Homo sapiens: one gene and its partner. The protein of the gene in region 1 purifies or fractionates together with the protein of each later gene. This does not show direct contact. Each region holds a gene or a part of one and is shown on either strand. Other genes may lie near its edges.

Evidence for each region.
Region 2: the proteins of FAM81B (region 1) and PYGM purify together in Homo sapiens (affinity purification with mass spectrometry; one large-scale study listed by BioGRID and IntAct). This does not show direct contact.

Annotation. Positions count from the first base shown.
Region 1 is NC_000005.10:95,408,068-95,411,888, reverse strand, and holds part of FAM81B (protein FAM81B), read right to left. Parts: intron 1,122-3,821; exon of another isoform or gene 946-1,121; intron 1-945.
Region 2 is NC_000011.10:64,749,713-64,753,533, reverse strand, and holds part of PYGM (glycogen phosphorylase, muscle form), read left to right. Parts: coding exon 1-15; intron 16-346; coding exon 347-461; intron 462-1,029; coding exon 1,030-1,131; intron 1,132-1,462; coding exon 1,463-1,610; intron 1,611-1,878; coding exon 1,879-1,937; intron 1,938-2,067; coding exon 2,068-2,209; intron 2,210-2,950; coding exon 2,951-3,158; intron 3,159-3,821. UniProt on the Homo sapiens protein: Allosteric enzyme that catalyzes the rate-limiting step in glycogen catabolism, the phosphorolytic cleavage of glycogen to produce glucose-1-phosphate, and plays a central role in maintaining cellular and organismal glucose homeostasis.

The DNA of each region.
Region 1 (3,821 bases):
AAAGTTCTAATTTGTTTTATGTATATTTTGTCAATTTGACTCCACAAAAGTGCATTATCACAACATTGACTTTGTGTGTAAGCATTGTGTATGTAAAAATGTTGAAACTTCCCCAATAAATGAAGAGATGTCCTTTTTTGTACAACTGCATTTGTGAAAGATAAAATTTCTTAAGATCTCAGCTCTTTGTGCAATTGCATATGCCGTAGTGACTCATTGAAGTTTTGGATCAATCTTATCAAAAGACTTAGGTTATCGTCATGGTGTTTCAGATGACTACAGTTATAAAGCTGGTTGCATAAAATTACCATAGTGTTATGCATTTATACATTTTGAATCTTGACTTATTTCTTTATGAATATGGTTCATCCACTTATAACATTATACCCATATGACTGTTGTTAGTATACCTGTATGTTTATGCTTGTAAAAATACAAATGTTACTATTGCCTATTTTATTATGTAAAGTGGCCTGTGAAATGCTCTGTCATGTTTTTATATGTTTCTAAAATAAATCTCCTTTTATAAATGTGAAGAAATGTCTTTTAAATTATTTTTTCCAGAATTATATTTTGGGGATTTAGATCTTTTTGGGATTTCCACATTTGGTATTATGACATTCAGGATTGTGTTTTTTTGGGATTATCAAACCCGTTAATGGAATAGTTAACTGGTCCTAGGTCATCCAAAGCCCATGTGTTAAAACACTTGCTTATATAGTCCCCAAATACAGGTTATTTCCAAAGCCCTTATGTGTACTGATTTCTGACCCTATACCAAGTCACATTTTTTATACATGAACATGACAACATTCCTTCAAATCTATATAACTGAGTGAGAGGTTTACTTTAAATTTGTCTTTAATGCTATTAAATTTCTTGGGGATTTCTTACTATCCTGTGACCCAGTAGAAGGGGCTGCGGGTTTTCTCTCTTTAATCTTACCTGCTTAGTACACTGAATTTCTGCACGAATTTTTATTTGAAGAAATGTTTCAATGTCTCAGAACTATTTATTTGGTAGAGCCAGGATTAGCTCTAGGTCACCTGTAACTTAGCCTAGGATGTTTTCCATGTTGCCGCCTCTGAATGGTAGCAAATTATGTTGTGAAGATCACTGGAAAGAGAAGTCAGCCTTAAGGAAAAGGAGATTTGGCCTTTATTAGGGCCTGGAAATAAAATGATGAATACGACAGATAAAGCCCCTGCCCTCTTGGAAATATATATTTGTACCTATATACTTATGTAGATGTATAGATATATAGTATATATCTTTTAAAAATGACTATTATATATGCTGGATCATAAAAAGCCAAGGCCAAATAATTCATGCTTGTTCCCATTGCATGAGCCAAAATAACTATTTGCTTTAGGCCAATAGTGACAGATTTTCTTGGAAGTGAAAATGTCCTCGGGACAGCAGATTTTAGGGCCAGATTGTGAACATTAGCATTTTCTGGACTGCGGGTTTCAGCTGGGGTTGTGTTTAGCTGTGTTTATCAGAAATCCAGAGAGAGTGACTGAAGCAAGTAGGGTTTGTTTGGCTCAAGTAACAAGAAGTGGAGAGGTAGAGCAGCTGACTGAGGAAGTCATCAGGTGCCCAGCTCCTTCCGGCTTCCTGGCCCACTCATAGTATGTGACCTTTACCCTCAGGTCTCAAGGTTGTTGTTCCACCTTGAACTATTGTGTCCCCATTCCCGATAGAAAAGACAGAAGGCAAAAAGTAAAATAAAATGTGTGCATCTGTTGAGTTTGTCCCCACCCGTCCTTTTTTAAATCGAGATAGCCTTTCTAAAAGACTCACTATGACACTTTTGTCTATATTTCATTGGCTGAAGCTATGTCATATAGCCACCTCTTATACCTTATTTTGTTTTGTTTGTAGCCTTAAACAAAATTGGGACTTTTATTAGCAAAGAGGAAGGAGAAAACGTCTACTGGATTGACTACTGGTGGTATTTGCCATATGCAATTTTCCTCCTTTTTACCTCCAATTTGATATCAAGTATCTCTGCCAAAGGAATTTAAAAAATAAGAAGTTTGTTTCTTCCCTGTTGGTTGTTTGCTTTCTGAGGATTAATCTGTAGCTAAGTTTTTTTGGGCAATGCCAGAAGCTGGCTAAAGTTTGGCCACAGATATAATTTTATTACCCTAGTGATGGATGGTTGCTCACAAGGATCAGTGTGTGTGGATGGCGAGGCTTCAACTGCCCAGTGAAGGTCAGCAGAATCTGGTTGGCTTATAAAGGAAGAAGAGGGGCTCATGCTATGCAGGTAAATAAAATATAGAAATATATTACTTCTTTTTAATTTAGTAGCTCTGTAATTTCATCTTTATAAAACTGCTCAAAAGAAATATAATGTAAACCTTATAGACAATTTTAAACTTTCTAATAGCCACATTAAGAAAAATTCTTTAAAAACTGATGACAGGCCAGGCGTGGTGGCTCACACCTGTAATCCCAGCAGTTTGGGAGGCTGAGGTGGGCAGATCACTTGAGGTCAGGAATTTGAAACCAGCCTGGCCAACATGGTGAAACCCCATCTCTACTAAAAATAGAAAAGTTAGCCGGATGTGGTGGCACACGCTTGTAGTCCCAGACGCTCGGGAGGCAGAGGCACAAGAATCACTTGAACCCGCAAGGTGGAGGTTGCAGTGAGCCGAGATTGAGGTACCACACTCCAGCCTGGGCGACAGAGCGAGACTCCATCTCAGAAAACAAAATAAAACAAAACAAAAACTGATAATGTTAATTTTAACAATATAATTTATTTAAACCGTTATATCTAAAATGTCATTGTAACATGTAATCAATGTGAACTTTTTAATGGAATATTTTACATTCTTTTTAAAGATAAGTCTTTGAAGTCCAGTGTGTATTATACACTTATAGCACAACTTCTCAATTTGGACTAGCCACATTTCAAGTGCTCAACAGGCACATGTGGCCAGTGGCTACTGTTTGGGATAACATAATTCTAGAACCTGAGAATCAGAAAGAGGGAAGAAAACGTCACTGAGCAGTCAAAAACATTACCACCGTGTCCATACACTACTCCTGCACTTTATAAATAGTTATAGCTAGTATCTTTGAGCATTTAATACAAGCCAGACCTTGTGGCTAGCACTTTAAATGAGTCATCTATTGAATCTTCATGATAACACCATGGAGGGTCTATTAATATTACCCTGTTTTTAACGATAATAAAACTGAGGCTTAGAAAGATTGAATAACTTTTGTCCGAGTTTACCCAGCTAACAACAGTGGACCAGTATTCAAGCCTAAGCAGTCTGAAGTTCATACTACATTACATGCAGAGAAGAGGTCCCCTCCAAACTCTGCCTCCAAATCATCCCTGGAATGTGCTTCCTGCTCAATTTACCCACTATTCTAACAAACCAAGTTGGATGATTTCCGGGTCCATACAAATGTAATACCTGATAATTCTATGTTGAGGAGAGGGCTGCCTACTAACAGATGAAAGAAATCACAGATTAAAGGCAAAGATGAGCAAAAGAGTCAGAAGTTCAACGAAAAGTAAACAAAGTAAATTAGAAATGGGAGAAGACAAAGGCCAGGGCTATTTCATGTACAGGCAAAGAAACTTAAAAATCCTGATACCCTCTCTTGGCCTTAATATATTACTCCTTCCCTTCACTGATCAGTTTCTTGAAGAAGCAAGCTAGTTTTGTTGTGCCTTTCAATATGTGTGGTTTGCTCCTCACCCTATGATAATCAGATTCTTCTCTTTCTCTCTCTTCCTCCCTCCTTCCCTCCTCTCTCTCTCTCTCTCTCTCTCTCTCTCTCTCTCTCATTTTGGG
Region 2 (3,821 bases), on another chromosome or scaffold:
CCTCAAGAAGACCATGTGAGCCCCGCTTTCCAGATCCCGCCCCTCTCTAGGCCCCACCCACTCCACGCCTCTGTCACACAGAAGCCCCGCCCTTCACCGACCACTCTCTGGTCTCTGGGCCCTGGCGCCTTTCACAGGTGGCGTCATTCTTACAAGCACAGCAGCCCCTTCCAGTGCCGCCCTGTCCTGAGATGACCTCCTCTTACACACAGCACCCCCAACCTTCCCCAGGTCTGCATTCCCTGCCCCAGGCCCCTTTCAGCAAGACACCAGGGTAGGGGCCCCAGGGCAGAGGCCTTCATTGTACAGGGGTGAGTGGTGACCCTCGTCCAACCTCATCCTGCAGCTTCAAAGACTTCTATGAGCTGGAGCCTCATAAGTTCCAGAATAAGACCAACGGCATCACCCCTCGGCGCTGGCTGGTTCTGTGTAACCCCGGGCTGGCAGAGGTCATTGCTGAGGTGAGAGGCCACCGTAGGGCCAGTAGAGTCAACATGGGTCCCTGCAGGGATCAGCTGGGTATGGTCGTGTAGGTGGTTCACTGCATCAGGGCTCCCAGCTGAAGGCTGAAATCCCTCCTGCACTGTGTTCCCCAAGCCTCGCATCCACCTGGAGGAGGGACACCATCTTAATTGCATGAGGGTGCTCTGTGTGCTAATGGAGGCCCTGGCTGTGGAGGTGAACACAGCAGAGGGAGTCATCCATGGGTCACATCTGAAGTGAGCCTGGAAGGGGGCAGATATCTGGTAGGGAAGGCGCAAGGTCATGCTGGCGTTAGGAAAAGGCCAGGAAGCCAGGAAGGCCTGCTGGGGTCAGGTGGGGTCAGCCATCAGAGCTCAAGGACGGGAGGGGAGGAAGGTGCATGGATGCCCCGTGCCCCATCTGGGCGGCTGGAGGAGGAGGGGCTGGGAGGGCCCCCAGAGCAGCCTGCTGGGTGAAGGGGGCTTGGCTGACCTGGAAATGGCCCCTTCTGTGTTGGGAGGAGGGAGGACATGGGGATGGGCTTGGCTGAGAGCCGTCTTCCCATAGCGCATCGGGGAGGACTTCATCTCTGACCTGGACCAGCTGCGCAAACTGCTCTCCTTTGTGGATGATGAAGCTTTCATTCGGGATGTGGCCAAAGTGAAGCAGGTGGGGAGAGATGCAATGTGGGACAGCTGTGCTGTGTGGAGAGCGCTGGAGGGGCCAGATGTCTGGGTCAGGCGTGGCAAATAGAGCTCATCTCTCCTGCCAGCCCAGGCCGTTGGTGGAAGTTGCCTGGAGTCTGTGGTGGGAAGGCATCATCTGACCTCACATGAACAGTGCTGACATTGATTAGCAATGTCTGCCCTGGTACAGGAGTGGACAGAAGTAGCCAGTGAGCCTCCTGGTAGCCATCCTCCTGGGGCTGACTGGAGTGTGGACTGTAGGATTTCCTGAGGCTGTGGCCTGTTGGTGAGCCCTTCCCCGTCTCTGCCTCCAGGAAAACAAGTTGAAGTTTGCTGCCTACCTAGAGAGGGAATACAAAGTCCACATCAACCCCAACTCACTCTTCGACATCCAGGTGAAGCGGATTCACGAATATAAACGACAGCTCCTCAACTGCCTCCATGTCATCACCCTGTACAACCGTGAGTGGCAGCCACTCTACCCTGTCTCTCAGTGCTCCCCCGTGTTCCTGCGGCATAGTACATATTGCCCAACCAACATCTCCTTTGGACTTGGGACTACTCTTGGGACATGGAATTATCCCCATTTCACAGATGGGCAAACTGAGGCTAAGAGAGCATAGCAAGTGATTGTTCGAGTCAGGCCTACGGTGTCCCAGCCCAGCCTCTGTCAGGAGCTACTACCCAGAGGGAAAGGTAGGCCCACTGGATCCCTCTCGTTTCTCCACAGGCATCAAGAGGGAGCCCAATAAGTTTTTTGTGCCTCGGACTGTGATGATTGGAGGGAAGGTGAGAAGCCAGGCTCCAGCCCTGGGCTCCCGTCCTTTGATATATCCAGGTTGAGGTCAGCCCAGCTGAGTTGCAGGATAGGGGGTGGGGGGCCAGGCAGTAGAGCTGACCCCAGACTTTGTCCCCTCAGGCTGCACCTGGGTACCACATGGCCAAGATGATCATCAGACTCGTCACAGCCATCGGGGATGTGGTCAACCATGACCCGGCAGTGGGTGACCGCCTCCGTGTCATCTTCCTGGAGAACTACCGAGTCTCACTGGCCGAGAAAGGTGGGTGCTGCCAACAGGGACCCTAGGGAGGCTCTGACTAGTTCAGTCTCAGGAAGAGGTATCAGTCGTCTCTTCCTGGGATACTTGTACTTGAAAGAAGAATCTGGAGAGGGCAATGCTTAAACCATGAGGAGGCCAGGCGCAGTGGCCCATGCCTGTAATCCCAGCACTTTGGGAGGCCAAGGTGGGTGGATCACCTGAGGTCAGGAGTTCGAGACCAGCCTGGCCAACATGGTGAAACCCCGTCTCTACTAAAAATACAAAAATTAGCTGGGCGTGATGGCAGGTGCCTATAATCCCAGCTACTTGGGAGGCTGAAGCAGGAGAATCACTTGAACCTGGGAGGCGGAGGTTGCAGTGAGCCGAGATCACGCCATTGCACTTCAGCCTGGGCAACAAAAGCAAAACTCCGTCTCAAAAAACAAGAGGAAACAAAACAAAGCAAAAACCCCATGAGGATGCCCTCTAATGGTGGAATTTCAGGCAGTACAGGGTGAAATTACCTTCAAATCTGCAACAGAGGTGGGGAAATCCAGGTTGGACCTAGATGGTCAAGAATCAACAAGAGGTAGAGGGCAGTGGGGGTGCGGTGTGAGAGGGAGGCTTGGCTGGTGAAGACTGGGAGTTTGGGGTGGGGCGACTCTGAGTCCAGCTATGCCTGGGGCCAGCCTAATCTGAGAGTCCCCAGCTGGTGTGAGGGTCTTCCCTGAGTTGACTTGTCCCCCTGCTGCCACCCCACAGTGATCCCAGCTGCAGACCTCTCTGAGCAGATCTCCACTGCGGGCACTGAAGCCTCAGGCACCGGCAACATGAAGTTCATGCTCAACGGGGCTCTGACCATTGGCACCATGGACGGGGCCAATGTGGAGATGGCAGAAGAGGCGGGAGAGGAAAACTTCTTCATCTTTGGCATGCGGGTGGAGGATGTGGATAAGCTTGACCAAAGAGGGTATGGGGGTCAGGGTTCACGGGCAAAAGACACCCAGGTGTGGCTGCTGGAGAGTGGTGCTGGGAGCAAGCGGCACGTCTGGAAAGACTGGTCCAGGCCCAGCAAGGTCTTGGTCATGGCCAGCAGGATTCTGGGAAACTTTAGAGGGCGCTTACAGCAAATAAGGTTAATGAAATTGGAAAAGAAAGAAGTAATATAGAACTGAAGGAAAAGGAAGAGAATATTATATCAACCCTAAGAGATAATATTGTTTGGGAAATGGAAGTAAAAAAATCCTTGCTCTACGCCGGGTGCGGTGGCTCACACCTGTAATCCCAGCACTTTGGGAGGCCAAGGCGGGCGGATCACAAGGTCAAGAGATCCAGACCATCCTGGCTAACACGGTGAAACCCCATCTCTACTAAAAATACAAAAAATTAGCCGGGCGTGTTGGCAGGCGCCTGTAGTCCCAGCTGATCGGGAGGCTGAGGCAGGAGAATGGTGTGAATCCAGGAGGCGGAGCTTGCAGTGAGCCGAGATCGCGCCACTGCGCTCCAGCCTGGGTAACAGAGTGAGACTCTGCCTCAAAAAAAAAAAAAAAAATCCTTGCTCCCTGAAAGCCATGGGCAAAAGGGAAATATGGGCACAGTAGTTACAAGGGGCCTATGGTCAGAAACAGTTCTT